5 separate regions of the Homo sapiens genome follow, and all the other regions are linked to region 2. Evidence: fine-mapped expression QTL. A gene starts in region 2. Each other region holds a variant in brackets. All regions are shown on one strand. Distances are between the middles of the regions. Region 1 holds the start of CBFA2T3 (CBFA2/RUNX1 partner transcriptional co-repressor 3). Region 2 holds the start of CYBA (cytochrome b-245 alpha chain). Region 3 overlaps ZC3H18 (zinc finger CCCH-type containing 18). Region 4 overlaps ZC3H18 (zinc finger CCCH-type containing 18). Region 5 has its middle 57 kb from the start of ZNF469.

What was found.
Region 1: its variant is fine-mapped to the expression of CYBA in non-classical monocytes (Schmiedel 2018, PIP 0.95).
Region 3: its variant is fine-mapped to the expression of CYBA in whole blood (INTERVAL, PIP above 0.99).
Region 4: its variant is fine-mapped to the expression of CYBA in whole blood (TOPMed, PIP above 0.99).
Region 5: its variant is fine-mapped to the expression of CYBA in monocytes after Pam3CSK4 (Quach 2016, PIP 0.95).

The regions. Positions count from the first base shown.
Region 1 is chr16:88,972,648-88,978,367 of GRCh38, reverse strand. CBFA2T3 (CBFA2/RUNX1 partner transcriptional co-repressor 3) reads left to right here and starts at 1,161. Exons shown (of 12, transcript NM_005187.6): 1 at 1,161-1,711. The coding sequence starts at 1,561. RefSeq lists enhancers at 740-789, 2,630-2,839, 2,492-3,036, 4,978-5,137, 5,318-5,387. The variant C/T (reference allele first, on the strand shown) is at 3,611.
Region 2 is chr16:88,648,439-88,654,248 of GRCh38, reverse strand. CYBA (cytochrome b-245 alpha chain) reads left to right here and starts at 3,196. Exons shown (of 6, transcript NM_000101.4): 1 at 3,196-3,293. The coding sequence starts at 3,236. MVD (mevalonate diphosphate decarboxylase) reads left to right here. Exons shown (of 10, transcript NM_002461.3): 9 at 841-949; 10 at 1,644-2,309. The coding sequence ends at 1,724. RefSeq lists enhancers at 2,597-2,746, 2,174-3,068, 3,069-3,962, 3,963-4,858 and silencers at 3,007-3,286, 3,437-3,586.
Region 3 is chr16:88,623,680-88,629,489 of GRCh38, reverse strand. ZC3H18 (zinc finger CCCH-type containing 18) reads right to left here. Exons shown (of 18, transcript NM_144604.4): 11 at 5,428-5,532; 12 at 4,745-4,888; 13 at 4,223-4,288; 14 at 1,708-1,868; 15 at 1,371-1,570; 16 at 636-732. Among named protein-coding and RNA genes, the nearest start is that of IL17C, 12 kb to the left of the region's middle. RefSeq lists enhancers at 465-1,179, 1,180-1,896. The variant G/TG (reference allele first, on the strand shown) is at 3,106.
Region 4 is chr16:88,602,762-88,608,571 of GRCh38, reverse strand. The region is part of intron 6 of ZC3H18 (zinc finger CCCH-type containing 18); the gene reads right to left. Among named protein-coding and RNA genes, the nearest start is that of IL17C, 33 kb to the left of the region's middle. RefSeq lists an enhancer at 921-1,421. The variant G/C (reference allele first, on the strand shown) is at 3,310.
Region 5 is chr16:88,323,156-88,328,965 of GRCh38, reverse strand. It overlaps a transcript of ZNF469 not described here. Among named protein-coding and RNA genes, the nearest start is that of ZNF469, 57 kb to the left of the region's middle. The variant G/A (reference allele first, on the strand shown) is at 3,526.

The DNA of each region.
Region 1 (5,720 bases), 320 kb before region 2:
GGCCTGGCGTCTGGGAAGTTCCCCAGCAGGAACAAACACATCCCCACTGTAAGCTGGACACACACGCTGGCATGCAGCTTGTTGTCACCAACTCGAGAAAGACACTCGACTATTGGGACAGGGAGACCCGGGACACCTGGAGACCCTGCGGGGAAGGAGTCGGCTTTTACTCCTGCACGGCTTGAATTATTAACTGCGTGCAAACGTGACCTAAAACTCAAATCAAATCAAATCAAAATAGCACAGATGCCCGTGAGCCGGCCCTGGGTCTGCGGGCTCCACACCTCTGGCCTGTCTGAGGCCGGGAAACCTCCAGCCATGGCATCAGAAAAGCCACCGAACCAGGGCTGCAGGGCCGAAGGGTCACTGTCCCCTCCCAGGAAGCTCCTGCCCTCTGACAGTTGTCAGGGAGCTTTAGAAAGTGGCTTTTTTTCCCAGCATCTGGGATGTGCCTCACTCTCTCAGCCCAACGGCCGCTAGAAAGGGGTCCTAGGACTCTCCCTAGGGTCTAAGTAGTCCCAAGAGTGCTCTGAGGTGGCTTCTGGAATTTCCCAGACTGGAGAAGCCACCTACCCCCGACCCCCGCAAACTCCAGGCTGCTCACCGGAGGCGGCCGCTGGGGCGTGGGGTGAGGGTCTTTCTGAGGCACCCCCGGAGAGTGGGGGAGCCCTGCTGTCTCCACAGAGGGCCAGGAGCCCTGTGCACGAGGCCAAGCAGAGAGAGAGGGTTTCCTTCCCAGCAGGCGGGAGGTACTTTGAGGACAGGTCAGGTGCCCAAGAACCCCGGAGCAGGGGCTGAGGAGAGGCTGGTCAGAGGCCCCGCCTTGCTCAAGGGCACAGTCAGCAGACACAGGAACACGGGCAGGGTGGCCCCTGGAGCGGGGGCAAACTAAAAGGGGTGCTGGGGAAAGCTCGGCTGACTGAGGGCTAGCGGAGAGGGAGGACACCCCCAGATACCCCAGGCTGAAGGAAGGGCCAAGCCCTGGGGGGAAGATGGGTGGGCGGGACAGGCCAAGGGCTCTGGGCCAGGATGGAGCTGCCCTCAGGCCTGCACACCTGCCCTGGGGCCGAGGAAACACATGCCCAGTGGCCACGCTGTAGGGCTCAGGGTGGGTGGGACGTCACCAGAGCTGCCTGGGAGGAGGAAGTTGTTGGAAGGTCAAACCGGAATGGCCCGAGGGAAGGCCGCGCAGGGCAGGGCCCCAGATGGTTCCTGTCAGGGAAGTGGCGGGCGCAGCTGCAGGCCTCCGGCCCCGGCATTATCACGGGGACACAGCTGGCTGCCTCACCCGCAGGCTGCAGGGAGACCTTCCCCAGCCTGCAGCCCCAGGCCCGCCCCGCGTCACATGAGCCCCAGGGCTCCCACCCCCTCCCCAGGGCAGAGGACACCCAGTTGGTGGCCGGGAGGGCCTCGGCTTTCCAGGGACAGAGGCCCAACTCCAGGACGCCCCAGCTGGCCCAGCCCCTCCTCTTTCCCTCAAGGCTGCAGGAGGTCGGGAAAGGCAGTCCTGGTAGAGGCCTGTCCTGGGCTCCAGGTTGGCCCCTGAGGGTGGCCCTCCTCATGCCGGCTTCAAGACTGAGGGACAGGGCAGCCAGTTCAGCCTCGGGATCCACCTGTGGCTCCATGTCCCAGACGCACCCTGTGCTGGAGAGCGGCCTCCTGGCATCTGCCGGCTGCTCCGCACCCCGGGGTCCCAGGAAGGGCGGCCCAGGTAAGAGGCTCGAGGGGAAGGTGGTGGGGTGGGGGCAGAGAGCGGCAGCCGGTGCCGGGGCTGTGACTCCTTAGAGCTTCGCGGGGCCTGCCCAGCTTAGTTGACAGTGCCGGCACGGATGGCCGTGTTGACTCACCTCAGATATCAACAGGGCCACCCCACAGGCAGGTCCTGCACAGCTGGGGCAGGTGGGCTGGTGAGGGTTTGGCAGGTGCCAGCCAGGTGCCCCAGCCCCACCCAGAGGCAGATGCTGGAGGCCGGGCTGCTCAGCCCCGTCTAGGAGGGTGGGCTGTGTTCTCCTGGGGGTGGGAGGGCCGCAGCCGGGAAGTGATGGGGGGGTCCTAGAAAGAGAGCCCTCCTCCTCCTGGGATGCCCTCCGGGTGTGACACCTCACAGCAGGTTGGATGAGGAAACTGAGGCCAGAGGGGAGGGCACTGGCCCAAGACCCCGGTGAGGAGGAAATGGACCCAACCCTGGGCCCCTGTCCGAGGAACGATTCCAGCCAGGGCAGTGGGGGTTTACGGGGAACCTGGGCCTGCCCTTCTGGGGGCTTCGGGCTCTGGGGAGGGGTCCAGTCCAGCAGGACGCCAGCTATTGCTGATACCCCCCACCCGAGCCTGCGAAGTCCCAGGACAAGGATCCCCGGACGCTGGGGGCTGCAGCTGCAGGCTGGTGGCCCCGATTCCCAGTGGCCCTCGTGGCCACACTCCCAGCAGCCGTCGGAACCTTCAGGAGCTCACAGTCTCCCGTCTCGCGGGGCTCTCACTGAGGCCGTCAGGTCCAAGGTCTGACTGCACCCCTGACACTCACACACAGAACCCGGGACCGAGGGGTGTCCCCATCTCTGGAGACCACATTCCCTGAGCAGGTCCTGGCGGCGGCTGCCTGAGGCTGTTCCCACCTGCAGCTGCCCGTGGGGCCCCAGGGCCATCCCCCACAAGGGCCCCAGATGTGAGCAGGAACTTCCCAACCCCGGGTGCCCGGAATGCAAAGGCCGGACCTCACCACAGCCAGTGCTACTGTTCGTTTCTCCCGAATGGGTGACTCAGAGCCACCTTCAAGGCAGCACCAGCCCACTGGCCCTGGCATCTGCCATCCCGTCCTCTCTGGAGCGGCCCTGTCTATCCCCTGGCGCTGAGTGGCCTTGGGCCGGGTGCTTCCTCCCTGGGCCTCAGTTTCCTCATGGTTCAGACCCTTCCGACCTGCTCCCCGCGTGAGAGCAGGTTCTCACCGGCGCGGAGAGAGACGGGCTCTGAGGCGCATGGAGAGCCGCCGCTTTGTTAGGATGGGGGCGTCTACTGTGGAAGGACGGGGGTGTCTACCGTGGAAGGAGGTTAGGGCCAAGAGGTGGCCCCGTGCCTGAGTCATGCGAGGGGCTGCTGGCTAGAGGCATGAAACAGAGGGTCAGGGCGGGCCTCTGACATGGCTGCAGGTGAGGAGCAGAGGGTCAGGGTGGACCTCTGACATGGCTAAAGATGTGGAGCAGAGAGGGTCAGGGTGGACCTCTGACATGGCTGCAGGTCAGGAGCAGAGGGCCAGGGTGGCCTCTAACACAGAGTACCCAGCCACTGTGCCCACCCCCAGGGAGCCCCTGCTTAGGGGCTGCAATGTGAGGAGGGAGCAGGGTCTCACTTGGGTGCGGGGTCCTGCCCCTGGCTTCTAGGGGCTTCTGTCCGTGCAACCACCCGGCCCTATTCCAGGGTACCCATGGGACAGCCTTAGCCACATCAGGCAGCAGAGTTACATGTGAATACCAGCACTTGGGGCTTCTCATCCTGTACCCCAGGGGCCTCCCAAGGCCCCCAGGGGACAGATGTGGGAGCCTTGTGATGCCAGAAAGCCTCGGCATCAAGCCTCGCCTGGCTGGAGGAGCGGGGGCCATGGGGGGCATGGGAACTG[C/T]GGGGGGTCCTGGACAGACCTGAGGGCACCTCAGCCCCACTGTGTGGCTGTCAGGCACACAGGCCTCCCAAGAGTTCCTAAAACCTTTGAGGCCTGAAAACAGGCCGATTGGCTTTAAACTCTGGGGAGAACAGTAATATTTCTAAAAGCTGAAGTAGAAGAACCTTCCTGTCTTTAGACCAAAGGCGTACTGAGCAGGGCTGTGTTGCTGCGCGTTTGGTGGCGGGCAGGAGAGACGTCTGTGTGCTGTGCAGGGGGTGGGAGGACCTCAGCCCCTCGTCTCCTCTGACAGCGTCCTGGGGGCTGAGGTGTAAGCAATCAGAAGATGGCCACAGAGCACACGCCGCCGTCTGGGGGCCGGGACCCCTTCCCTGGGCTCCTTCACCAGCCCCCTCACGCGGAGGGTCTGGATCCTCACTGACCCCTGGGCCCAGTGGTGCAGAAGGAACCCCTGAAGACGGTGCTTGCGGTGCTGGGTTTACGAGGCGCCCGCTGTGTGTGCTCGGAGCTGTGCAGGCTCTCACCGCCTTGTCCCCCCAAGCCCACTTTGCAGAAGAAGAGGCGGAGGTCAGAAAGGTGACCTGACTGCCTCAGGAGAGAGGGATGGGAACCAGGTCACCCGAGGAGGGTGCCAGGGACAGAGATTTTGAAATCCACCTGGCAAGTGTAGGCTGAGGCAGAGAAGTTTCAGTGCCATGTGCTGGGACCTCCATGGGGGAGAAACTGAGTCAGGCCTGCCTGGTGTCACCTTAGAGGGACGACGTGGGATCTCGGGGAGGTGGTGAGCACTATCAGTGGAGGGGTGCAGGCAAAGGCGGGCGGGTGTTATGGGGACCGGGCAAGGCGGGAGATGTTATGGGGACCGGGCAAGGCGGGCAGATGTTATGGGGACTGGGCAGATGCTGTGAAGGCACCATCCGTGCAGGAAGCTTGAGCCCTGGCTGGAGCCCACCTGGCAAAGGGGTCACGTCCAGAGCCTGCGGTCAGCCTGGGCTCCCTCTACCCGACCTTGCCCTTGGGGCTGGGCTTTGCCACCACTCACTCTCCATCCTCCATCCCCTCAAGTGGCCATCCAGGCCCAGCTGTCCTCTGGAATGTTGTGGGTCTGGAACGTCCTGGGTCCAGAATGTTCTGGGTCCGGAATGTTCTGGGTTTGGAATGTTCTGGGTCCGGAATATTCTGCATTGGAAGGTTCTGGGTCTGGAATGTTCTGGGTCTGGATTGCCCTCCCCGGGTGTTTCTATCTCCTGGGGCTGCAGTAAGGATGGGCTGCAAGCTGGCTGGGGGCTCAGAACAACAGAGGCTTCTGTTCTCACAGTGCCGCAGGCTGGAAGTCCGAAACTAAGGCGTCAGATGGCCGTGCTCCTCCAGGTCCTGCCTTCTCCAGGTCCTGCTGGTCCCAGGTGTTCCTGGGCTGTGGCCGCCGTGCCGCAGCCACTACCTCTGTCTTTGCAAGGCCGTCTCCTCCCTCCCAAATCTTCCTCTGCCTCCTTCTTCTAAGGCCCAGCCCACCCTAGGCCAGAGCTCCAGCCACTCACTCTGCACTCCAGGCGGTGGGACACAGGGAGGCACTGGAGAGGCTGCAGGCAGCCCCGGTTATGGGAGGTGCCCCATCAAGGGGGCGCGGTGGGAGGGGGAGTGGACATGAGCAGCCGGGCGGTCTCAGCCCGACTCCTCCTTCAGCCGCAGGCCCTGTGTCTGCTGGGCTTTGGAGCTGGTGGATCATGCAGAGCTCGGCCAGGGTGTCTGTGGGCTCCAGCCAGAGGCAGGGAGGTCAGTGTGTGCATGACAAGACGTCTGAGGCCACAGACAGACAGACAGGCAGCCCCAAGGGTGCCTGCAAAGGGGCCGGATGGTAGCTGTCAGACCTGTGTCTGTGAGCAAAGTGCCATCACAGCCATCATCCCAAGGTCCCCAGCACCCTCAGACCTCACCTCCCGCCTCCTGTCCCCCCTTTTGTTGACCACATGGTGTTGGGGGGCTCCATGTCGGGGAGCCAGCCTGGGAGTGCTGCTGTTACTGCTATCACAGAAGAAGAGACTGAGGTTCTGAGAGGCACACAGCAGGCTCTGCTGACCCTGTGGGGCAGAGGCAGATGGGCTGGAGATGT
Region 2 (5,810 bases):
AGTTGGGTGTCTTTTCTTGGGTGGGGTCCGGCAGCTGCATCTTGGCGCCACAGAGCCCCCATGTACGCCCTCCTCGGTGCACAGCTTGGCCCTGAACCGCCTCTTCCCCTGCGCTGCTCTGTGGGGGTGCCACAGAGCCCCCATGTACGCCCTCCTCGGTGCACAGCTTGGCCCAGCCTCCTTACGCCCCGGGGCTGTTGATTTCTTCCCTCCCGTGTTTTCATGGTGTCTTATTCTCAATGTGAGAGGCGCCTCCCATTTAAGGGTGTCTGGAAGCGTGTGGGGATGTGCGTCTGTCCCGGGTGGGAGCAATAACACCTTCTAATGGTCAGGGGCCTGCCCTGTGGGGTGGACTCAGACCCACACCCCAGGACTGCCCGCCTGGGAAGCACCAGGCTCGTGGCTGCTGCTCCGGGTGGGGCTTGCAGGCTTCCGCTGTTCTGCAGAACACGGTGACGAACGCACCAGCTTGAATTGGGCGCTTCCCTGAGCTGTTACCCCATGGGGCTTGGCAGCACCCTTGGCCAGATGTGGGTCCAGCCTGGGCATAGCTGTTTACCACATAACCTAAAATTTCCTGTCTCAGCCATTCGAGAGCATATAATCCTGCGGTGTTGAGGACATTCACAGGGTCATGTGAGCACCACCTCAAGCCACCTCCTTAACTTTTTCATCACCCCTAAAAGAAACCTGTCCCCACAGCAGCCACCTGCCGTCTCCCCCTCCCTGAGCCCTGACGGCCAGGAATGCACTTCCCATCTCTGGACTTGCCTGTTGTAGACTGTTGTAGACGCTTAGAGAAACGGATGCATTCACCGTGCCCCTGCCCTGCTTTTCCAGGTTTCTGAAGGGGCTGCAGGTGAGGCCGGCCCCTCTCTCAGCTGAGCTTCAGGCTGCGCTGGCCATGGAGCCGACCCCCGGTGGGGTCAAATACATCATTGTCACTCAGGTGAGGCCTGGGGCTCACCCAGTACCCCGGGGTTTCCTTTCCTGCCAGGGGGGCCCGCCCAGCCCCCAGGGCCCTTAAAGGCTAAGCGCGGCTCCCTGTCCCTACCGTGTCTCAGGCAGGAAGCCAGAACGCCTTTGTCCATTCATTTGCTCTCAAAGTGGACATTACAGGCCACTGGTGATGCTCAGAGCAGCAGGGCTGCGCTGAGGGTGGGAGGGTGAGTCTGACACAGGCTCCCAGGGAGACAGGTGGGGAGTATCAGACCCTTGAATAGGGAGCGCCTGGGGTGGGGGCTGCTGGGGTCCCTGGGACCCCCCCACCCCAACCACCCCAGCAGACCGGAGTTCCTGCCCTCTGACCTGCTCCGAGGGCCAAGCTTGCATCCAGTGATCACGGCCGCCCAAGCCATTGCCGCCACCTTCCTCTCAGGGGCTGCCTGTTCCCAGGCTCTGTGGTTCTCTGTCCCCCCTGTGACAGAAGCAGTGCCCAGGGCAGGGGGCTCGCAGCTGGCAGGGGCGGCTGTGCCTGCAGGAGCTGCGTGTGGGTGTCACCACTCAGGCGCTTTACCTTCTGACCAGGACCCACAGGAAGGGCGGGGGCACACCGCTACCCTCCTGTGTCCGGCCCTACAGATGCTGGGCACAGGATGAGGCGCTGCCATTCCTGGTGACCTGACATGGATTTCTATCCCCAGGTGGGGCCAGGGCCTCAAATCCTGGATGACCCCTGCGCCCACCTCCTGGGTCCTGACGGCCTGCCGAAGCCAGCTGCCTGACTGCCTCAGCAGGGACCGCATGCCGCTTGGAGAAGGGGTGGCCTCGCCGGAGCTAGGGAGCGGATGTGGTGGGCTGGCCGGACTCCTGGGACATGTGGGTGGTGGCTTGACCCCGGGCCCATGGGCAGCTTGCTGTGGGGCAGTGCAGGGAGTCCTGCGGCCGCCCAGGTGTCAGGAGAGGTCCCCGCCGAGTGCTTCAGCTGCCCTAAGCTGCACCAGCGCTTTGCCAAGATGGGATGGGGAGGGGGTATGAGAACTGGCAGAGCCTCGGTGCAGCAGGGCTGAAGGGCTTTCTCACCCCAGCTCTGGCTATGCCCAGTTCTCTGAGAAAGGAGCTCAGTGGGGAGGTGGTCCCTCCAGCGGACCAGGGAAGGGGTCACCGTGCTGGGAGCAGCCTCCTTGGGCCTCAGGAAACCACCAAGTGCCTCGGATGGTGGCTGCCCACGGCGCTTCTGCTGAGACCCTGCCCCCGGCCCAGGTGTCTCGGAGGGTGGCTGCCCACGGCCTGGGTGTGGCTGGAATGGTGGCAGGAGTGGGCACCAGTGCGGCCCCGGTGGCCATGGGGAATAAACCAGCATTGCTGCCTCCGGCCTCCGCCGTTTTTCTGTTTCGTAAACCAGCATCCCGGGGTTCCTGCTCTGAGTGACCCTGGCACCTGTCAGGGAGTCCAGGTGTGCCCCATGAGGGCCTGGGGGAGGGGCAGGCTGGGCAGAGCCACAGAGGGGCTCCCCTCAAACCCCACATTGGCTCAGGTGGGACCCTCAGGAGCAACCCCAGGTCTAAAGTCTTCCCATGGGCGCTGGGCTCACCACCCCCACGCCAGCCCCTGCCTCCCGTACCCAGGCCGGACGTGACGGGGCCGTCCCTGCATTCTGTGCTTTCCCAGTTGTACACATCCTGTCCCCTCCCTCGAGTCTCAGTCACAGTTCAGTGACCTGGTGACGGGAGGCCCCCTGCAGTGTCTGACCCAGGCCACGCCTGTGCCAGCCCAGAGCCAGGGGGAGGAAATGGGGGCTGGGCCTCTGGTCCCCATGGGGAGGCCACCCTTGTCCTTGGTAGCATCAGGGTGCAGAGGTGTTCCCGGGCTGTAGGGGTGACTCCCCCACCCCCCAAGGCTCTGGAGAGGCCGATTTGCTCAGGAAGCCGACCTTCACACCTTGTCCTGCTATTAATAGACGCCTGGTTGACACGGGACCCTCGGTTGGGTCCGGAGCATTGGGCAGGGGCACTTGTCAGTGTTTGAGAGCTGAAGTTTGGGAAGCCCTGGGGAAGCGCAGGAACTCCCCGCCTGGGCTGGGGCTGCCGGGCAGGGCCCCTCCTATGCCTCGGCGTGGCTAGAGAGGGCGGGGGCAGAAGGCTCCGGGACAGCCCTGCACCCTACAGATGCGGGTCTCCGCCCAGCCGCGGTCACCTGGGGGGCTGGGGGCGGGGCCTGGGCGGGGCGGGGTTCGGCCGGGAGCGCAGGGGCGGCAGTGCGCGCCTAGCAGTGTCCCAGCCGGGTTCGTGTCGCCATGGGGCAGATCGAGTGGGCCATGTGGGCCAACGAACAGGCGCTGGCGTCCGGCCTGAGTGAGTGCACGTCAGGGACGGTGGAGGCTGCAGCCTGGAGGGGTGTCCCAAGACCCCAGCCGGGACCTCGGGCTACTTACAGGGTGGGGAAGTGGGGCGCCAGGCGGGCCAGGCCGGGCCGGGGTCAGGCCAGGAGGGTGCGGGGAACGGGGGCGGGACCCTCAGGCCGCGGGCTGGAAGGAGGAGTTCTGAGACCCCCAGTAATTCCCTTGCAGACCCTGCGGAGCGCGGCGCCCCTCCCCCATTCCCTTCTCTCGGTCCCCCGACTCCGCGAAGGAGGAAGTTGCAGCGCAGGGGAAGAGGCGGTTCAGCCCCGGTGGTTTCCGGGGTCACCGCCCCGAAGCCCCCGAGTGGGGGCTCCGGCCTGGGCATCGGGAGAAGCTCCCCTGCCCCTCGGTAGCCAGCTGGCCTGGAGGTCGCTCTCCCTGGGCTTGGGGTGGGGAATGGGCTCATGCCCTGGGGCTCAGCCCTTCTCATCTGGAGTCTGCGCTGGAGGCGGTCTGAGATTTCACAAGGCGCCGAAACCACCCAGTGACGGCCCTGCCCAGCCCAGCTGCACAGGCACTTTGCTCTTGGGGTGGGATGGCACAGCCCCCAGTCACCCTCCTGTGCATTTGCTCAGAGGTTCTGGTGAGGGCAGCGGACTCCATTTGGAAATGGACCCTCTCGGGACCAGGGCCAGGGAGTGTCTGGCCCAGCACGGGTGAGGCTGGGCTCAGGCGAGGTCTGAGGGCAGAGGCACCACTGCAGCAGCTCCAGGAAGGACCTGCACCGGGGGAGGAGTGCCTGGGAAGGGCCTGGGGGCTGAGGGTGAGGAGGAGGGGCCCGCTGCCACCACTCCCCTGGGGCTCTGAGCGCCCTCCCTGTTGTCTGGAGGGTGCGTGGCAGCTGGAGTGGGAGCAGAGACCTCAGGGTGGGAGGGCTGGAGGACGGGGCCCTGCAGCCTGTCCTGTGCCCAGGAAAGTGACCGCCTGCTTCGAGTCAGCGGCCAAGAAGTCGGTGGGTCAGTTCAGACAGCTCTCCCCAGAGCTGCCCCGTGAGACTCACCCTGCCTGCCCCGCACTCCCTACAGGAAGTAGACGGACTGAGGGCACCCAGCTGGGAGCCAGGAGACCTGGGCTCTAGTCTGGCCTCCTGCTGAAACCCTCCAGGGGCTCCTGGCCCGAAGAGTTAGAGCCAGACTGGACGCCCTGCACTGCCCGCCCTGGCCTCCCGGCTCTCCGGCCCCCTCCTCCAGCTGCCGTGCTTCCTTTCTGTTCCTAGATCTCCTGAGCGTGCCCCAGGGCCTCGGCACAAGCTGCTGCTTCTGCAGAGCCTCATGGCTGTCTCATTTATTTCTCAATTCAAATGCCACCTGCCTGGGGAGGTCCTTCCAGACCGTGCAGCCCCAGGAGGCAGCTGGCCCGGAGACAGCAGGGCCTTGACAAAGAGTCCCCCCTGTACACAGCAGGTGCTCTGTAAATGTGGCTGGGTGCCAGAATACGTCCTCAGACCTCCCTGGTGGCACCAGCGGCAGCTTTGCACCCTCTTTCGGATGGCAGGCTCGGGACCAGGACGGTCCCCAAAGATGCATGGACAATTGGCTGAGTAGACTCAAGGACACTGCCCTCCCCTCCTCCGACGCAGACAGACAAACCCAGAGAGTTAATGTGTAGCTGGGCTCAAACCAAGGATAGGAAATCTTCCAACAAGACCATGTGGAGACAAAAACAGAATGGCTGGCAGGGCAAGGTGGCTACACCTGTAATCCTAGCACTTTGGGAGGCCAAGGCGGGCGGATCACGAGGTCAGGAGATCGAGACCATCCTGGCTAACACAGTGAAACCCCGTCTCTACTAAAAATACAAAAAATTAGCCGGGTATGGTGGCAGGCGCGCATAGTCCCAGCTACTCGGGAGGCTGAGGCAGGAGAATCGCTTCAACCTGGGAGGTGGAGGTTGTAGTGAGCTGAGATCACGCCACGGAACTCCAGCCTGGGTGACAGGGCAAGACTCTGTCTCCAAAAAAAAAAAAAAAAAGAAATAAAATAGTAGGAAGGACCAGGCGCCGTGGCTCATGCCTGTAATCCCAACACTCTGGGAGGCCAAGGCGGGCGGATTCCCTGAGGTCAGGAGTTCGAGACCAGCCTGGCCAATGTGGTGAAAACCCTGTCTCTAATAAAAATGTAAAAATTAGCTGGGCATGGTGGCGGGCGCCTGTAGTCCCAGCTACTCAGGAGGCTGAGGCAGGAGAATTGCTTGAACCCTGGAGGCGGAGGTAGCAGTGAGTCGAGATCGCGCCACTGCACTCCAGCCTGGGTGACAGAGCAAGACTCCGTCTCGAAAAAAAAAAAAAACAGTAAGGGGGAATATTGGACAATACCCCCCCAAAAATGTGCAGAAATAGCCATATCAGACGAAACCGAAATTAAGGCAAAACCGCTGACGGGTTAAGAGGAACTCCGTATCGGGGGGAAAAAGACACTCCCCCAAGAAGATGCAGAAACCACACTCGGCCTGTTAGCTTTCAGTGCATCAA
Region 3 (5,810 bases), 25 kb after region 2:
GCACATGTGTAAAAAAAAATACAGTTGCTCTTGTTGCCCAAGCTGCAGTGCAATGGTGCAATCTCAGCTCACTGCAACCTCTGCCTCCCAGGTTCAAGCGATTCTCCTGCCTCAGCCTCCCAAGTAGCTGGGATTACAGACGCACGCCACTACGCCCAACTAATTTTTTGTATTTTTAGTAGAAACAGGGTTTCACCATGTTAGCCAGGCTGGTCTCAAACTCCTGACCTCAGATGATCTGCCCACCTTGGCCTCCCAAAGTGCTGGGATTACAGGCATGAGCTACCGCGCCCGGCCTAATTTTTGTATTTTTAGTAGAGACAGGGTTTTACCAGGTTGGCCAGGCCGGTCTGGAACTCCTGACCTCAAGTGATCTGCCGGCCTCAGCCTCCCAAAGTGCTGGGATTATAGGCGTGAGCCACCACGCCCGGTCCTGTTATTTTTAAACAAATATTTAAAACCTTTTCTTCGTTTTAGTTTTCAACACCCTAAATACCGACAGGCATCATCTGCAAGTCAGATGTTCTCTGGACCCTCCTCCTACTTGTTAAGAGCAATGGGGTCTCAGACCCAGCTGCTCCGCATCCCCAGGCTCCCGTCCCTCTGCCCTGCCCCCTAGGGGCTGGGAGGCTCACCTCGGTCTGGGGATGTGTTGGGCCGCTTGGCTGGAGGAGGGCTCTGCCTGTCCTTGTCTGATGGTTCATAGCGCTTCCTGCTTCCTTTATCAGCCGCCTGGGACAAGAGAGAGGCCAGTGAGGACAGCAGGGCCAGGAGCCAGAAGCCGTGTCCTCGCCCCAGAGGACATGGGTTCCTTGCCAGCAACCTGCTCTGCTCCCAAAGGTCCCACCACACACCCATGAGACCCCGTAGCCCTGAGTGAGGCCTCCAGGACCCGGACCAAGGGCACCCCCACTGTGCACTTGGGGCCCTTCACGTTCCAGGGGAAGCACCCTGCAGGCCTTCCTGCTCCCCACGGGGGCCACTCTAGGAGGACCTGGGACCCATGAAGCCAGGCCTCTTGCCCTTCCAGCAGAGGACAGGGATGTGTCCTGCTGAGGACAGAGGACAGGGACGGAGGCTTCCTGTATTGTGTTGAGACTGCATGGCAGGGAATGGCGGCCACAGGCACGAAGAGAACGCCCTCTCTGTTCAGAGAGAGGCCAGCAGCACCCAAACCTCCCCAGATGCTCACACTTCCCAGCCCAGGCCGGAAAGATGGAGTCTCGCTTTGTTACCCAGGCTGTGCTGACACCTGCAAGGCCCCACTCGCCCTCACTCAGGCTCCGTCCCCCAGGAGGAAGCTGTCTCAGGAAGCAGATGGACCCAGGCCTAGACGCTGGGGCAGCCACCAGGAGGGCCCTTGCCCTCACCTTATTCAACAGTGTCAACTTGATCTCCTTGTGGGCCACAAATGTGCCCTGCTGGGGCTGCCCGGGGGGTGCCTGCTGGGGTGTCGAGGGCTGCTGGGAGGACTTCCCCCCTGCTGGAGGTTTTGCAGATTTGGGTGGTTGTGTGGACGAATCCCTTTTCCGCTTTTCCTCTTTAACACCGTCTTCTTTCTTAGATTTTCCTACCAATGATAAATCCGCAGTCATGGGGGTACTGGTGATTTTCCCATGGCCACACCAACAGCCAGGCAAAGTCTGTGCTGATGCCGCCCTCCTCCCCCGGGAGCTGCTCCCCAAAGGTACCAGGGCTCCTGAGTACCTTTCTCCTTCCTGGTCTGGGCTGGGGCCGGGGACCGAGAGCTGGCTGAGGACACGGGGCTAGCCAGGTCTGCGTACATGTCCTCCGAGTCCACGCTGTGTGCAGAGCTGCTGCTCGACGTAGCACTGGACACTGAGGAGACGCTGCTCACGCTCAGGGACCTGGACACACAAGCACATCTCACCACACCCCAGCCAGACTGGAGGGAGGGGCCAGCAGGGGGTGCTCCATGGTCCACTTTTACGCAGTGTCCATTTATGGATCATGTACCCACGGAATGTGTGATTTTGGGGGGACACTGGGCAGTTTCAGGGTTACAAAGTAAGGGACGTCCCCATGGCTAGGCCAGGGCCCCATTTCACTAATCAATGTCAGGTTGCAGCCAGGCACGGCTGCTCACGCCTGTAATCCCAGCACTCTGGGAGACTGAGATGGGCAGATCTCGTCACGAGCAATGGGGTCTGAGACCCAGCTGAACTGATGTCAGGAGTTCGGGACCAGCTTGGCCAACATGGTAAAACCCCATCTCTACTAAAAATACAAAAATTAGCCGGGCGTGGTCGCAGGCGCCTGTAATCCCAGCTACTGGGGAGGCTGAGGCAAAAAAATCGCTTGAACCCGGGAGGTGGAGGTTGCAGTGAGCCGAGACCATGCCATCGCACTCCAGCCTGGGCGACAAGAGTGAAACTCCGTCTCAAAACAAACAAAAAACAAAACGAATGTCAGGTTGCTTTTTGGGAAGGGAAACAGGACTGAGCTGACTCAACAGCGGCAAGGATGGAATTTAAGCAGAGTCCCTGGCTTAGACAAAAGGGAGATAGCCTCAGCCCACAGGGAAATTAAAAACACAAGGAGCAATTCCGCAGTCTCAGGGAATGCCTGAGGAACACACGGCAGACAGACTGGAAACAGCAGGTCTGTAGCTTCACTGGCGTGCACTCAACACGGACACAAAGCACACAGGACTGGCACCTGAGTCTGCCCTGCCCATATGCTGCTCGAGAAAACACCAACCACGTCTTCCAGGTACATTGGGTACCGGAGCAAGGAACGGGGGAATGTAAGAGAACCATTTTTTTTTTTCAAAAGTCAGGTCTTTAAAACATTTCAGACTTATTAAGAAACATTTAGGCCAGGCGCGGTGGCTCATGCCTATAATCCCACGAGTTTGGGAGACCACGGTGGGAGGATCACTTGAGCCCAGGAGTTTGAGACCAGCCTGGGCAACACAGCAAGACCATGTCTCTCCAGAAACAAAACAAACAAAAGAAACAAAGAACTGTGACAAATATATAAACGACCTGCTGCCTGGAAATGAAAGAGTTCTATGCAAGGAATCTAAGGACTGATTTAATACTTTCTTTTAAAACAACTAAATAGCAAAAATCCTTTTTTTTT[G/TG]TTTTGAGACAGGATCTCTGTTGTCCAGGCTGGAATGCAATGTCGTGATCACAGCTCATTCAACCTTGACCTCCCAAGTAGCTGGGATCATAGGCACACACCACTATACCCAGCTAATTAAAAAAAATTTCTGGGCTGGGTGCAGTGGCTCACACCTGTAATCCCAGCACTTTGGGAAGCCGAGGCGGATGGATCACCTGAGGTCAGGAGTTCAAGATCAGAAACGTGGTAAAACCCAGTCTCTACTAAAAATACAAAATTAGGCTGCGTGCGGCGGCTCACGCATGTAATCCCAGCACTTTGGGAGGCCAAGGTGGGTGGAATGCCTGAGCTCAGGAGTTTGAGACCAACCTGGGCAACATGGTGAAACCCCATCTCTACTAAAATACAGAAAATTAGCTGGGCGTGGCAGTGTGCGCCTGTAGTCTCAGCTACTCAGGGGGCTGAGGTTGAATCCGGGAGGCGGAGGTAGCGAGATCGCGCCATTGCACTCCAGCCTGGGCAACAAGAATGAAACTGTCTCAAAAAAAAAAAAAAAAAAAAAAATCTTTTTCTGTGGAGATGGGGTCTATGTTGCTCAGGCTGGTCAAGTCCTGGGCTCAAGCAATCCTCCTGCCTTGGCCTCCCACGGTGCTGGGATCACAGGTGTGAGCCGCCGCACCTGGCCCACAAAGCTTTTCCATGTATTCTCTTCTCAGATGTTTTTATCGGCTTCCCCACCCCCTCAGGCCGGTTCCCTCGACAGGTGTGATAGGTCACGCAGGCCCAGCCTCTGCCCTGCTGGGCTGGAAGCTGCCGGCTCCTCCCCAGGTGCAGGTGCTCTCTCAGGGTGCTGGGCATCAAGTCAGCAGGGCAGAGGCACCTCCTCCTGACCTGAGTGCCCCCGAGTTTGTGAATCTTTTTTTGGTGGGGGGAGGGGGTCTTCCTATCACGAGTCCTGGCCCATTTTCTCCTGTGTCAAAGCTTCAACCGCAGCCTTCCACAGCCCCAGGGTGACTCAGATCCAGAAGGGCCCCAGCCCACCTGTGGGAGACAGCCCAACCCACACTGGCTGCTTCTGGGACTTCCTGGCCCCGACGGGGAGGGAGAAACAGAGGCACAGGGTGATGGGGATGACCTGGATCGGGAGCTGGAACCACTATAGCTGCTACCACTGCCACTGCCGCTGCCGCTTAGCGTCCGCCTGTAATACAAGCAACAGCGGGGCTCAGGGGGCGTGGCCTCCACAGCCCCTCGCGGCCTCCCCTCCCCACCAGCAGCCCTGTGAGGTGAGCCTCCAGACTGGCCTTGCTACCACCTTGGAACAGGGCCTGGGCCTGTCTTCCTTTAGGCTCAGTGTTTTGTCAAGATAAAAAGTACAGTCTCTCGGGGGCAGCACCTTCCAGTGCAGACGGGGCCATGGCGGGAAGGCCTGTGCTCCGTGCCACGCTGTCCCTTCCCCTTCACGCTCCAGAAACACAGGCTCAGGGAGGGGACAGGGCAGGTTCCCGGGTAAGGGCTCACTGGGTGCTGCTCGGCTAGGGGGCGCTTCCCACCACCTGGCTCTGGACCCTGGCACTCTGGATTTCCAGCAGTGCCAGCATCACAGTGGCACCAAGAACACGGAAAGCCTGAGGGCCCCGGACGCCGGAGTGCTCACCTCCTGGGGGGGGTCCTGGCTGGCCGCTCCTTCCTCCTGGCTTCCCGAGGGTCTCCTGGCTTGGTGGGCTCGGGGACAGGAGCAGTGGTTTTGGTGGCCTGTGGTGGGGCTGGAGGCGGGGCCGGCTTCTTCACTGACTTCTCTCTGTGAGACAGGGAGGCTCGAGCAGGGCAGGGCTGGTGGACGGGGCCCCGCTGGCCTACATCCCCTTTCAATGGACCCACAGCTCGGGGAACGACACTGCATGCCTGTGACGCTCGGTGAGCACGCTCGTGCCTGGACACGGCTCCCCACCCATCGGTGTCAGAGTGCTTGGGAACGGCTTCAAAGCCCCCAGCAGCCCTTCCAGGCTCCCCTCTAACAGGCAAGAGCTACAGGCACCGCCAGGCAGTGGGGAGAGCAGGCTAATAGGAAGACCCCTTAAGAACACCCGGCTGCTGCCGTGTCCCCAGGGCTGTGCTCTGTCCCCAGGGTTCCCGAGGGAGTGCTGCTGTGTAAGGGTGGCCCGTGAGAACAGGAGCTGTGCCCAGTGCCTCCCAGCCCAGTCACCCCCTGGGGCCAGCCCCCTGAGGCATCCTCACCTCTTTGGTCCCAAACACAAATGAGAGATAGAGACGGAGGGAGGAGGCTGCAGCCTGTGGAGGCCTGGCCGGCCAGGACTTGCCCACAGGCTGGGCACTCACCCTGCTTTCCCGGGCGGCGGGGCCGGCTCTCCCTTGGTTCTGATGGAAGGTCTATGTGGGGAAGGTGTTGGGGACGGGGACGGGGACGAAGAGAAGGACCGGGACCTAGGGGAGTGAACAAAGGTGTCGGAAGGGGCCTGGGGGTGTTTCTTCACCAGCCCAAGCCCACTGAGGACCCACCCAGACCCATGGAGAAGGCCACGAATTTCCATTTATGTGCCTCAGTTTTAACTTCAGTTCTGGACTGTTCTGTCATCTGCTAAAAACACAGGCCCAGAGTAGACCAGAGAGCGTGGAAGGTGTCAGCATCCACTGGCGGGTCCTCCGGGAGGCGAGTGTCACGTTCATGTGTGTGCAGGACAGGAGGAGACAGGCTCCTTGGC
Region 4 (5,810 bases), 46 kb after region 2:
GACCAACATGGAGAAACCCCTTCTCTACTAAAAATACAAAATTAGTTGGGCGTGGTGGCACATGCCTGTAATCCCAGCTACTCAGGAGGCTGAGGCAGGAGAATCACTTGAACCCAGGAGGTGGAGGTTGCCATGAGCCGAGACTGTGCCATTGCACTCCGGCCTGGGCAACAAGAGTGAAACTCCGTCTTGAAAATTAAATAAGAAAAAAAAAAAAGGAAAGAAAATAGGAAGTGATACTTTAGCATGATAAAAATATACTGACACACTTTGGAACAAAAGTCAGCACCTTACTCACTGGGGAATAGGAGGAGCTCCCCCAGGAGTCTCCGCAACCACCTGTCCCTGTGTGGAGGCACCCCCTGACTGGACAAGGGGAGCCCACTAGAGGCACAAGAACACGAAAACAAGGAGCAAAACGAGCTCAGATTTGCAAAATGATATGATACTATACATGAAAAACCCAGAGACTTGATAAAGCCAATTCAAACAAACAATGAAGAAACTTGGAAAGGCAGAGGATAAAAAAATTAACATAGAAATCAGTGTCTTCACAGACACAGATTATAACCAGTTAGGAGGCAGAGTGGAGAAAACCGCATTTACAATAGCAAGAAAGAAGAAAAAAGTACTTAGGAATAAAATATCAACACATTTCACCAGAAATGTGCAGAGCTGATTCCTGAGAGACACAAAGTGTGTGTGAATAAGTGGGGAGACGCCTGAGAGACATGAAGCGTGCGTGAATAAATGGGGAGACGCCTGACATGAAGCATGTGAATGGGGAGATGCCTGAGAGACATGAAGTGTGTGTGAATAAATGGGGAGATGCCTGAGAGACATGAAGTGTGTGTGAATAAATGGGGAGACGCCTGAGAGACATGAAGCGTGTGTGAATAAATGGGGAGACACGTGACATGAAGCCTGTGAATAAATGGGGAGACGCCTGAGAGACATGAAGCGTGTGAATAAATGGGGAGACGCCTGATACAAAGTGTGCATGAATAAATGGGGGTTTTGAAACCTGACACAAAGCGTGCATGAATAATGGGGAGACGCCTCTTGCACTGGGAGAGCGCAGCTCGGAATCGCCCACAAGTCAGTCCTTCCTACACTGACTGATAAATTTAACACAATCCCAGCAAAAACACCAATGAGCTTCTTTAAGGAGCCAGACAAGCTGACACCCAAGTTCACATGAAAAATCGCACCCCAAGAACAGCCAAGAAAACCCTGGAAATGAAAAGACACGCCAGACACGCCCTCTGAGACATTAAACATCCTAAAAAGCCTGTATAATTAAGCCAGTGCCATCGCAGCACATGAAAACCGGCGGCCAGAAGGAGGAGGCAGGAGGTCCAGAGGCAGACCCAGGCACGCCCAGAGAGGTGGCATCTCAGGGACAGAGGGGATTCTTCATTGAACAGGGAGGGGACGACTGTCCAGCTGCTGGGAAGGTCAGGCTCTCTTCCCCACTGCGCACAGGGTTGGGGGGGGCCTGCTCTAAACTCCTGGCGGGGCCCACAACTCTGCATCTCCTTTCCTGTGGAGCAGAGGAAACAAAGTGTACACTAGCAATAGGAGGTCCCTGGACGCCCCTCCAGGGTATGTCTCAGCCACAAGCCAACCCTCTGCTTCGGGTAGACTGGGTGGGAACCTGAGGCATCATGGCTTGAGGTGGCTCCAGCGATGGGTGGCTACGAACACCCTCGAGGCCTCCTCAACTCTCCACATGGCCTAGAACTGGCTCTCCCAAAGGACACAGCTTCAGTCCGTTCCCATCAGTCGGACACCGTTCAATCTAATGTGCACACTACTCAAATCACACTGAATTATAACACTCAGGAAACATTTGTAGAGACCTGTGGCAATATGACATCAGGCTACATAAAAACGAAGAGGAAGCCTGGACAGCACGCGAGACACCGTCTCTACAAAAAACACATCAGCAGCCAGGTCTGGTGGTGCATGGCTGTGGCCCCCAACTACTCGGTGGGCTGAGGCTGATTGCGTAAGCCCAATAGGGTAGAAAAGCCTTTCCCAAAATGTGTGAGGCGTGTGTTCTCTGACAAGAGGACTGTGCCGGCAAATTTGTTTTTGGGAAACTGTACTTAAGCAAAATGAAAAGGCCTCTTTCCTGCAGGCTTTCTGGAAGTCGTGGATGAGCGGATAGGAATGAGGCACACAGCATTTCCTCAGCGTGGCTGCCTCGGAACCATCTGCTCCGCAGCATGCGTTCTAGAGAACGTGTCAACACAACACGCCACCAGGAACTGCAACCATGCCAACAACGGACTCCTCAGCACCATCCTGAAAAATTCTGAAACACTCTTGAAATGAATTTGGAAGGTATTTAATTCAATTTAAAAATAAATGCTACTGGGCAGTATCATGGTATGCACAAACTCTTCCCCAACTGTTTTAGGGAACCCAAAATGTTAATGGGCCTTTTGAGAAAAGGGTTCTGTGGTGAAGCAAGGTTGGGCAAAGCTGGCTCGCAGCAACTGGGAGGCTCGCACCTCGTTCTGCAGTCACCACTTAACCAGCCAACACCAACAGTGTCCTGTGCACACACGTGGAATCTGCACTCCAGAGGCCCCGCGTCCCCAGAGGTCTGGGCAGCGTCAGACTCAGCACTGGCACGTGGAGTGGACCTACTCCTCGCTGGAGAGGAGAACCCGAGGTCCTGGCTAAGGGGAACCATTGGACATGCCCATCAGGGGCAGGTGGTTTCTGCCCACAGCCTTGCCCAGGGAGAGGCATGGCAGGTGAAAAGTCGAGCAATTAGAGAACGTGTAAGACAGAAGTTTGGAGCTTCGAGATCACTTTGTTTAACCATTTCATTTCAGTGACAAGGAAACTGGATCTCAAAAAGTACTAGGAAAAAGTTCTAAAATGTCTAACACTACTCACTTTTAATCTAAGGGTTATGCAATATTACACAATGAAATGCAACTTGCATTTGCACAATTCAGGTTGAAATCGTGCTGACCTCAACCCAGGTGGAGGGAGGCTGTGCTCTGCAAAGGGTGGGAGTCAGATGCTCACGTGTCCCTGCTTGCTGCAGAGACCCAAGGTGAAAAGGAGGGTCCCAGGCAGCTCACAAAGGGAGCAGCGACGCAGCCCCCTGCTGCCTCTTGCCCTCACCCCAACCCAGCATGGTCGACCTGGTGCCCACCTGCCTGTTGCCCACGTTCCTGTTGCAACGCTGGCCACTGAAAGTGCAGGCAGGGGAGGAGGTCCCCAAAGGCATGCAGAGGCCACAGGCAATGCCTGGGCACCCATACATCCATCTGCCCTGAGTCTGTG[G/C]GACTGTGGGCTTACCCATGTGGAGCAGGCCCTGTCTTACTCTCCAGGTAGCCCAACCCTCCCTCCCTGCTCACTCAGGGGGCTTCCCCACAGGGCACCAGCAAATCCCAGGTAAAAGCCACTTGTGCTCTCTCAGTTAAGCATCTGGGACAAAGGAGGTGCTGGACCAGCATCTGGTAGACCTGTTACCTGAGGAAAGGGAGTGTGCTTTTTGAAAATTACTGTTCTGTTTCCTCTGTATCCCAGCCTGACATCCTACTCCAAAGAACAGCAGCCTGCACCTCCGCCTCTAATACACCGGCACTGCACTACTCTCTGTGCTGGGGGCGTATGGGGAGTTGGCAGGGGCCCAGTCCATGGCCCTGGCCATGGCCTGACAGCCTGACTCTGATTTAATCAGAAACTCTGTTCACGGTGGGGCTACTACTGATGACCGCATTTCTCACAGGTGACGTCCTGTGCGCACTAGAGGCCCTTGTGTCTTTTGGGTCACATGTCCCTATTAGACTTGTAGAATATTCTGGGCACAGCATCCCCAGGAGCCCTATGCAGAGATGACATTTCTTTTTTTTTCTTTGAGATGGAGTCTTGCTCTGTCGCCCAGGCTGGAGTGCAGTGGCGCCATCTCGGCTCACTGTAAGCTCCGCCTCCTGGGTTCACGCCATTCTCCTGCCTCAGCCTCCCGAGTAGCTGGGACTACAGGTGTCCGCCACCACGCCTGGCTAATTTTTTGTATTTTTAGTAGAGATGGGGTTTCACCATGTTAGCCAGAACGGTCTCAATCTCCTGACCCTGTGATCTGCCTGCCTCAGCCTCCCAGAGTGCTGGGATTACAGGCGTGAGCCACTGTGCCCGGCCGTCATTTCATTTCTTAATGTCTTACATATGTGAGAACTTTTTTTTTTTTTTTTGGAGAAAGAGTCTCACTCAGTCACCCAGGCTGGAGTGCAGTGGCACGATCTCACTTGCTGCAACCTCCACCTCTCGGGCTCAAGAGATTCTCCCACCTCAGACTCTTGAGTAGCTGGGACTACAGGTGCGTGCCACCATGCCCAACTAATTTTTGTATATTTTGTAGAGATGGGGTTTTGCCATGTTGTCCAGACTGGTCTTCAACTCCCGAGCTCAACTGATCTGCCAACCTTGACCTCCCAAAACACTAGGATTATAGACATTACTAGCTACTGTATCCAGCCAATATGTGAGGTTTTATAAGTCAGATGGTACCTGAACAAAGTGCTTGAGGTGGTAGAAACGGAATATTTAAAGCTGCGAATCAGAGTGCGTCTGTCTAGCAAAGTATTATTATTATTATTATTTTAAGAAATGGGGCTGGGCACGGTGGCTCACGCCTGTAATCCCAGCACTTTGGGAGGCCAAGGCCGGTGGATCACAAGGTCAGGAGATCGAGACCAACCTGGCTAACATGGTGAAACCCCATCTCTACTAAAAATACAAAAAAAAAAAAAAAAATTAGCCGGGCATGGTGGCAGGCACCTGTAGTCCCAGCTACTTGGTAAGCTGAGGCAGAAGAATGGCGTGAACCCAGGAGGCAGAGCTTGCAGTGAGCCCAGATTGCGCCACTGCACTCCACGCTGGGCGACAGAGCCAGACTCCGTCTCAAAAAAAAAAAAAAAAAGAGACGGAGTCTCGCTCTGTTGCCCAGGCTGGAGTGCAGGGGCATGATCTTGGCTCACTGGCAACCTCCGCCTCCCAGGTTCGAGCAATTCTCCTGCCTCAGCCTCCCAAGTAGCTGGGATTACAGGTGCATGCTGCCACGCCCTGCTAATTTCTTCTGTATTTTAGTAGAGATGGGGTTTCACCGTGTTGCCCAGCCTGGTCTCAAACTCTTGAGCTCAGGCAATCCGTCCGCTTTGGCCTCCCAAAGTGCTGGGATTACAGGCGTGAGCCACCGTGCCCGGCCACAAAGTATTATGTTTACTAAGTGATCCTGCTAGGTCAGTTTTTAATTCCAAAAGAGATATAAAGAAAAAACAGGCCAGGTGCGGTGGCTCACGCCTGTCATCCCAGCACTTTGGGAGGCCGAGGCAGGCAGATCACGAGGTCAAGAGATTGAGGCCATTCCTGGCTAACATGGTGAAACCCTGTCTCTACTAAAAAATACAAAAAATTGGCTGAGCGTGGTGGCGGGCGCCTGTAGTCCCAGCTACTCGGGAGGCTGAGGCAGGAGAATGGCGTGAACCCAGGAGGCGGAGCTTACAGTGAGCCAAGATGGCACCACTACACTCCAGCCTGGGTGACAGAGCGAGACTCCGTCTCAAAAAAAAAAAAAAGAAGGAACAACAATTTTCTTGTCCTTTATGTCCTCAAGACTTCTCGAAAAGTCCTCATATTCCACTGGTTCTACAATGAAGTGCCTAGAGCTCCATCCTGTAGTAAGCAAAGCCTGCCTGCATGAAGGTGCTTCTATGTGACAATTATTTGCAAAACTCAACATCAGGTGGCTAACGTCTATATTCCCAGCAACTTAGGAGGCTCAG
Region 5 (5,810 bases), 330 kb after region 2:
TTTAGGGCCCTGACCCTTCTTGCTGATTCGGTTTGACTCTGCTCCCTCCTCGGCCTCCTCCGCTTCCTCCTCGGCCTCCTCTGCTGTGGCCAAACTGCGTCTCCCCCACCCGCCTGCCCCAGCTGTTTTCTCTGGACACCTGGAATCCTCTCTGGTTCCTGTGTGGTGCTCACTGTGTGGGAAGCAGCCCTCCCTAGACTGGGCGCCTCTGTTGCTCACACCGCACCCTCTCCCATTGCACTCAGCTGTGTGTGCACATCCCAGCCCCCCGGCTGGAACGCTTGAGGGTTGTATCTGATTTCTTCTGGTTTTCCTTGTCTGGTGCATTTTGGGAGCCAGGGATGGAGGAGATCAGTGCGTTGGAGAAGAACCCGGGCCCTGGACCCCACAAAGATCCATGTCAGGCCAGGTGCATCGGATCAGCTTCCCCACAGAGCACACACTGATGGTGTCTTGCACTGGGGCCGTGGCGTTTCAGGTCCAGCAGCAGAGCTTCGACGGTAGCCATGCGGCCAGGCCCCGGCTGAGAACTGCCATGGCGTTTTCCTGGGGAACCTCCCTGGAGGTTGTGAAGAAGGCACTGCTATCATTCCCATCACACAGGTAAGGAAGTGCAGGCTGGGAGCCGTCATATGGTTCAGCCAAGGTCACACAGTCAGCAGCAGAGTGAGAATTTTGTTCCTCTACAGGCATTTTAAATACACCTTTAAGGCAGAATACAGTACACGTGCAGAAAGCACCAAGACTGAAGTGTCCGGCCTGGCCCATGACATAGCGTGCGTCTGCCTGCACAGCAGCCCCGGGCGAGAAGCACAGACTCGGCAGCTCCTCCTTCCCTGGGACCTGCGGATTCCTCGACCTCATCCCAGCTTTAGGACCGTGGCTCCCATGGCGTGTGCCCTTCTGTGTCTGTGGGAGTCGCCGTGTGTGCCGGGAGCTGCTGCTCTCCTGCCTGGGCAGCAGCATGGGTCGTGCATTCCCCATTGGCTGGGACAGCAGGTGGGTGTGCAGCCGTGATGGAGCCCGGCCGTGAAAGTGTTTCTGGTAGACAATCTCACGTTTCTGGTTTCTGCTCTGCTGGGTGTGTTTCCGGTGGGTGTGTGGGCCCCAGCTGAACTCGGGATCCGGCCGGTTTTCTCAAGCAGCCGGGCCTAGTCAGCTCCGACCACACTGCGGCCTCTCCAGCTCCTTCCGGATGACACCTGTGGTGCGGGGTCTAAGCATGGAGCCCAGGCTGCCCTGTCAGTGCTCAGTGAGTGTGCACGGAAGGTGGGAGGGGAGAGGGCGGTGGAGGAGCGGAGAGGAGGGAGGAACAAGGAGGTGGCCCTGGAAGCACTCAGCCCTGAGGTACGGAGCACGTGCCCTGTCCTGCTGCCGGTGACGCAGCCCACCGTGAGCACAGACCCCCCCCCAACCCCAACGTGATATGTTGAGGATGGCACAGGCCTGGCCCCTAGCTGGCCCTGGGAACCGCAGATGAGAACATTTCAGCACCCACACCATGCTTACGCCCTGGGATGGGGCTGCCTACCCGCTTCACAGGATGTGGCCTGCAGCCCACCTCGTCCAGGGAAGCAGGTGAAGGTGCATCTACCAAAGCCAGGTGGCAGGGGTGCTGCACAAAGGAGAGGCGAGGCCGGGAGGACCAGCGTGGCGAGGCGGGGGCTGGCGTGAGGCTGAGTGGATGGAGAGGCAGACCCAGAGAACCAGTGCCGGGGAGGCAGGGGCTGGTGTGAGAAGCCCCAGTGGTGCAGGCCACAGGGTCCCACAGGCTCTGGAGAGGCGGCCACCCGGGGCCTGGACCTTGTGCCAGTACGAGGGACACTATTTGGGATGGGGGATGGCCCCACTCCTGGGGTCCAGAGTGGCGCTTCTCCTGAGGTCCCACAGCAGATGCTGAGGACAGACCAAGGACATCAGGACCCTCCGCCCATCAGAGAGGCGGGGCCGCCCTGACCCAGGAGACAGCTCAAACCAAAGACAGACAGACAGGAGGGAGAGCGACGGGGAGGGAGACAGGGACACAGGCCGAGAGAGGTGGGGGTGCTGCTCCTGGGCCCCGCTGCCAGGTGGGCATTGGGTACTCTGCCCAGTTTTCAAGAAAATGAAGTGCAGACAAGGCAGCCATGGCTGAGTCAGGAAAGAGCGGGGGGGTCAGGACCGGCCCGAGTGCTGCCCTGGCCAGGGAAGGCCTGGGTGTCACCCTCTGATCTGGGATTGTTCTGGAAGGTCTCTAAGGTGCTTTCACAGCGGGGGTCCCATGAGTCAGTGACGTTAAAGCAAACACCCCAAACCCGAGGCCTCCATGTGAGTGCCTGCGTCAGGCACTCTGGTCCTGACCTCCATGTGAGGTGGCTGGAGGGTGGTCCCTGGGAAACATGCGGTGTCCTGCCCAGCAGTGTCACTGCCCTGGGCCTTGGGTGCTTTAATAAAGTGGTTCTGGATGTCCCCGAGGCCCAGGAGCAGCAGAAGCTGCAGTCCCTGGAGAGTGTCTCGAAGTGTATTAGACCATTTTCATGCTGCTGATAAAGACATACCTGAGATTGGGCAACTTACAAAAGAAAGAGGTTTAATGGACTTACAGTTCCACGTGGCTGGGGAGACCTCACAATCATGGCAGAAGGTAAGGAGGAGCAGGTCACTTCTTAAATGGATGGCAGCAGGCAAAAAGAATGAGTTTGTGCAGAGAAACTCTCATTTTTAAAACCATCAGATCTCATGAGGCTTATTCACTATCACGAGAACAGCATGGAAAGAGCCACCCCCGTAATTCAATTACCTCCCACTGGGTCCCCTCCCACAACATGTGGGAATTCAAGATGAGATTTGGGTGGGGACACAGCCAAACCATATCACAAAGGCTCTGAGACCAGGACATGTCTGTGGCCCATTGCTGGGGCCTCTGGGTTGGCAGCCCCTCCTCTCTGCCTACAGGATCACACTGGCTGGGAGTGGGGAGGGGGCGCAATCACAGGCACAGTGGCCACCCCTGGACTGACTGACAGGTGTTGTTAGCTCTATTGCTCACAGTGTACAGCTGAGGAAGCTGAGGCTAGAGAGGAAGTGGCGTCCTTCAGGTCTAAGGGGGCAGAGCACCGATCCTTCTGCCCTGCAGCCCCATCTGGGATGCGTGGAAGAAAGGAAGGAGGAAAGGGAGGAAGGAAGGAGAAAGAGGGGAAGGAAGGACCAGGGTAGCCGTCACACGGAGCATTTGAGTGGCAAGGCCCTGTCTGTCCTGGCCCCACTGCAGACTTTTGGGGTGACATTGAACAAGTCACTTTCCCTTAGGGGGTCTCACAGGCCACAAATTGCATGAGGGATGGGACCAGGAGCCCTAAGTGGCAGAGGCCCTTCCAGCTCTACCACCCTGGGACACTGTGTCCTGGTGTGGGTATCAGTGTCATTTCTGGCCATGCTGGGCTTGGCGCCACCACACATAGTGCCCCTGGCTGCAGTGGTGGGGCCACGCCTATCACTGACCTGTGTCCTCCGGGTCCCCTGGGCAGGGTACTCAGCGGCTGCCCC[G/A]CCTTCAGGCATGAATTGGGAAGAGTGATGCTCTGGGTGGAAATTGTGCCTCTCCCACTGTGACCCTGATGGTTGCCCCAGAAGCTGGCCACCAATTGTGCAGTCTGGTGGGTGTCCTGGGTCTGAGCCCCTGCGGCCCCCCGGGGTGCACCTCGGGCAGCTTACGGAGCCTGTAGGGACCACCTGGAGTGTGCCGGTGAGGACTTGAGGCCCTGTGTATGTCACAGCTGCTGTCGCGACCACCTGGAGTGTGCAGGTGAGGACTTGAGGCCCTGTGTATGTCGCAGCTGCTGTCGGGACCACCTGGAGTGTGCAGGTGAGGACTTGAGACCCTGAGTATGCCGCAGCTGGATGTGATCTCAACCAGAAGCTGCTGGAAGGATATTTCCCAAGGGCACCTCCTCCCTCTCTCTTTTCCTCCTGCTCCCACTGGCTGAAGTGCTGGATCCCCCTTCACCTTCCACCATGACTGTAAGTTTCCTGAGGCCTCCCCAGAAGCAGAAGCTACCATGCTTCCTGTACGGCCTACAGAACTGTGAGCCAACCCTCTTTTCTTTATAAATTGCCCAGTATCAAGTATTTCTCTATAGCAGTGCAAGAACAGACTAACACAGCTTCCTCCAGCTGCCCCCTCTGCCCATCAGCATAAGACACACCCACCGGCACCATGACAGTTTACAAACGCAATGGCAACATCTGGAAGGTGCCGCCCCCTTTCTAGAGATTTCTGAATAACCTTCCCCTTAATTCGCACATACTTAAAAGTGGGTATAAAAACAGCTACAGTCCCTTATGCACTCACCCTGGCGCACTCCCTGTGGGTTAGCCCTGCTCTGCAAGGAGCAGCAACTCTCTGTACACGGCCGCTTAAGTAAACCTGCCTTCCACCACCAGCTGGCTTTCAAATTCTTTCCTGAGTGAAGCCAAGAACCCTCCCGGGCTGAGCCCTGGTTCTGGGACTCTCTGCATCACAGCCATAGGAGAGGACAGCACTGAGGCCTGGCCACACGTGTGTTCACACCTGAGAGCTCTGGGGAGGTCAACATCCCAGACGGCACAGCTGTGACACAACAGCCCCCCACATCCTTCCACCCACCTCCCATAAGGGGTGTGTGTGGGGGTCTGCGTCTCTGCCTTTGAATCTGGACCTTTTTACTTCTTGGCCAAAACAGAATGCTGCAGAAGTATTGCTCAGAAAATTTCAGGGCTGGCGGTCCGAAACTGACAGCCTCTACTTCCTGCCTCTTGGGACCCAGCCCTCATGCTGTGAGGAAGCCCAAGTAGCCCCGAACAGGCCCCGTGGGGAGGCGCTGACCACAGGCCCCTGGCCAGCCATGTGGTGTGCCATTTTTGCGGCGGATCTCACCCCAGCCCAGCTGCTCCAGCTGAAGCCTGTGTCACTGAGGTGAGCTGCTGCCCGCAGGCCCTGACAACCATTGATTTGTGAGCAAAATAAGTAACTCTGCTTGGTTTTAGCCACTAAGTTCTGGGGTGATTGTTCTACCATGGTAGGGAACTGGGAGGGGTGAAATGGTGGGCACCCCCACGTGCCTCCTCCGAGTCTCCCTGTCACCATCTGTAGGATGGACACACAACACCCTTTTGCAGGGGGATGGGGGCACGGAGTGGGAGACTGCACAGCTGCGGTCTGGCATGTGCCAGGGGCAGAGTGGGCCCCTGGTCTGTGGGACCACGGCCATTACCGGTCATGGGCAACACTGGGTGTGGGAGTCCCCCTGCCCACTTCTGCCACTCAGTGGCAGCCCCCCCAATACCTCTACACTGTCCACCAGAAAGTGGGGGTCAGGGAGATCCTGGCTTTGCCAAGAGGAAGCCTGGCTGCCCAGGCCTTCCCACAGGGTCCTGAGGCTCTTGGGACCATTTCCAATAGTGAGGCCTCCCTCCCATGCCCAGGGCCCTCTCACCCCACAGAGATTTCGCCAGGGCCTGTCCTGGGGCCTTTGCTGCTGAGTGATGTCAGAAGTGATCAAAACACAAATGCTACAGAGAAGTGGGAAGGAAGAAGGTGGTTTCTGGCATTAGAGTTTGCTAGGTAAGCAGCCATCATCTTGGCAGCTGTATGTGGCCCTGTCAGGACAGGTCTGTGGCCCTGTAATCCACTGAGCGGCCTGCGAGGGTGTCAGGGCCTGGGACACGTGTCCCCAGCCTCCCAGGGGCATGGCACTGCACCACCAAGGCCTCCGGGGCCCCTCCTCGGAGCTCTGCAGAGCCTGGGGCAGACTGCGTGGCAGAAGGCAGGGTGGCCACCGAGCCTGGCTCCTGAC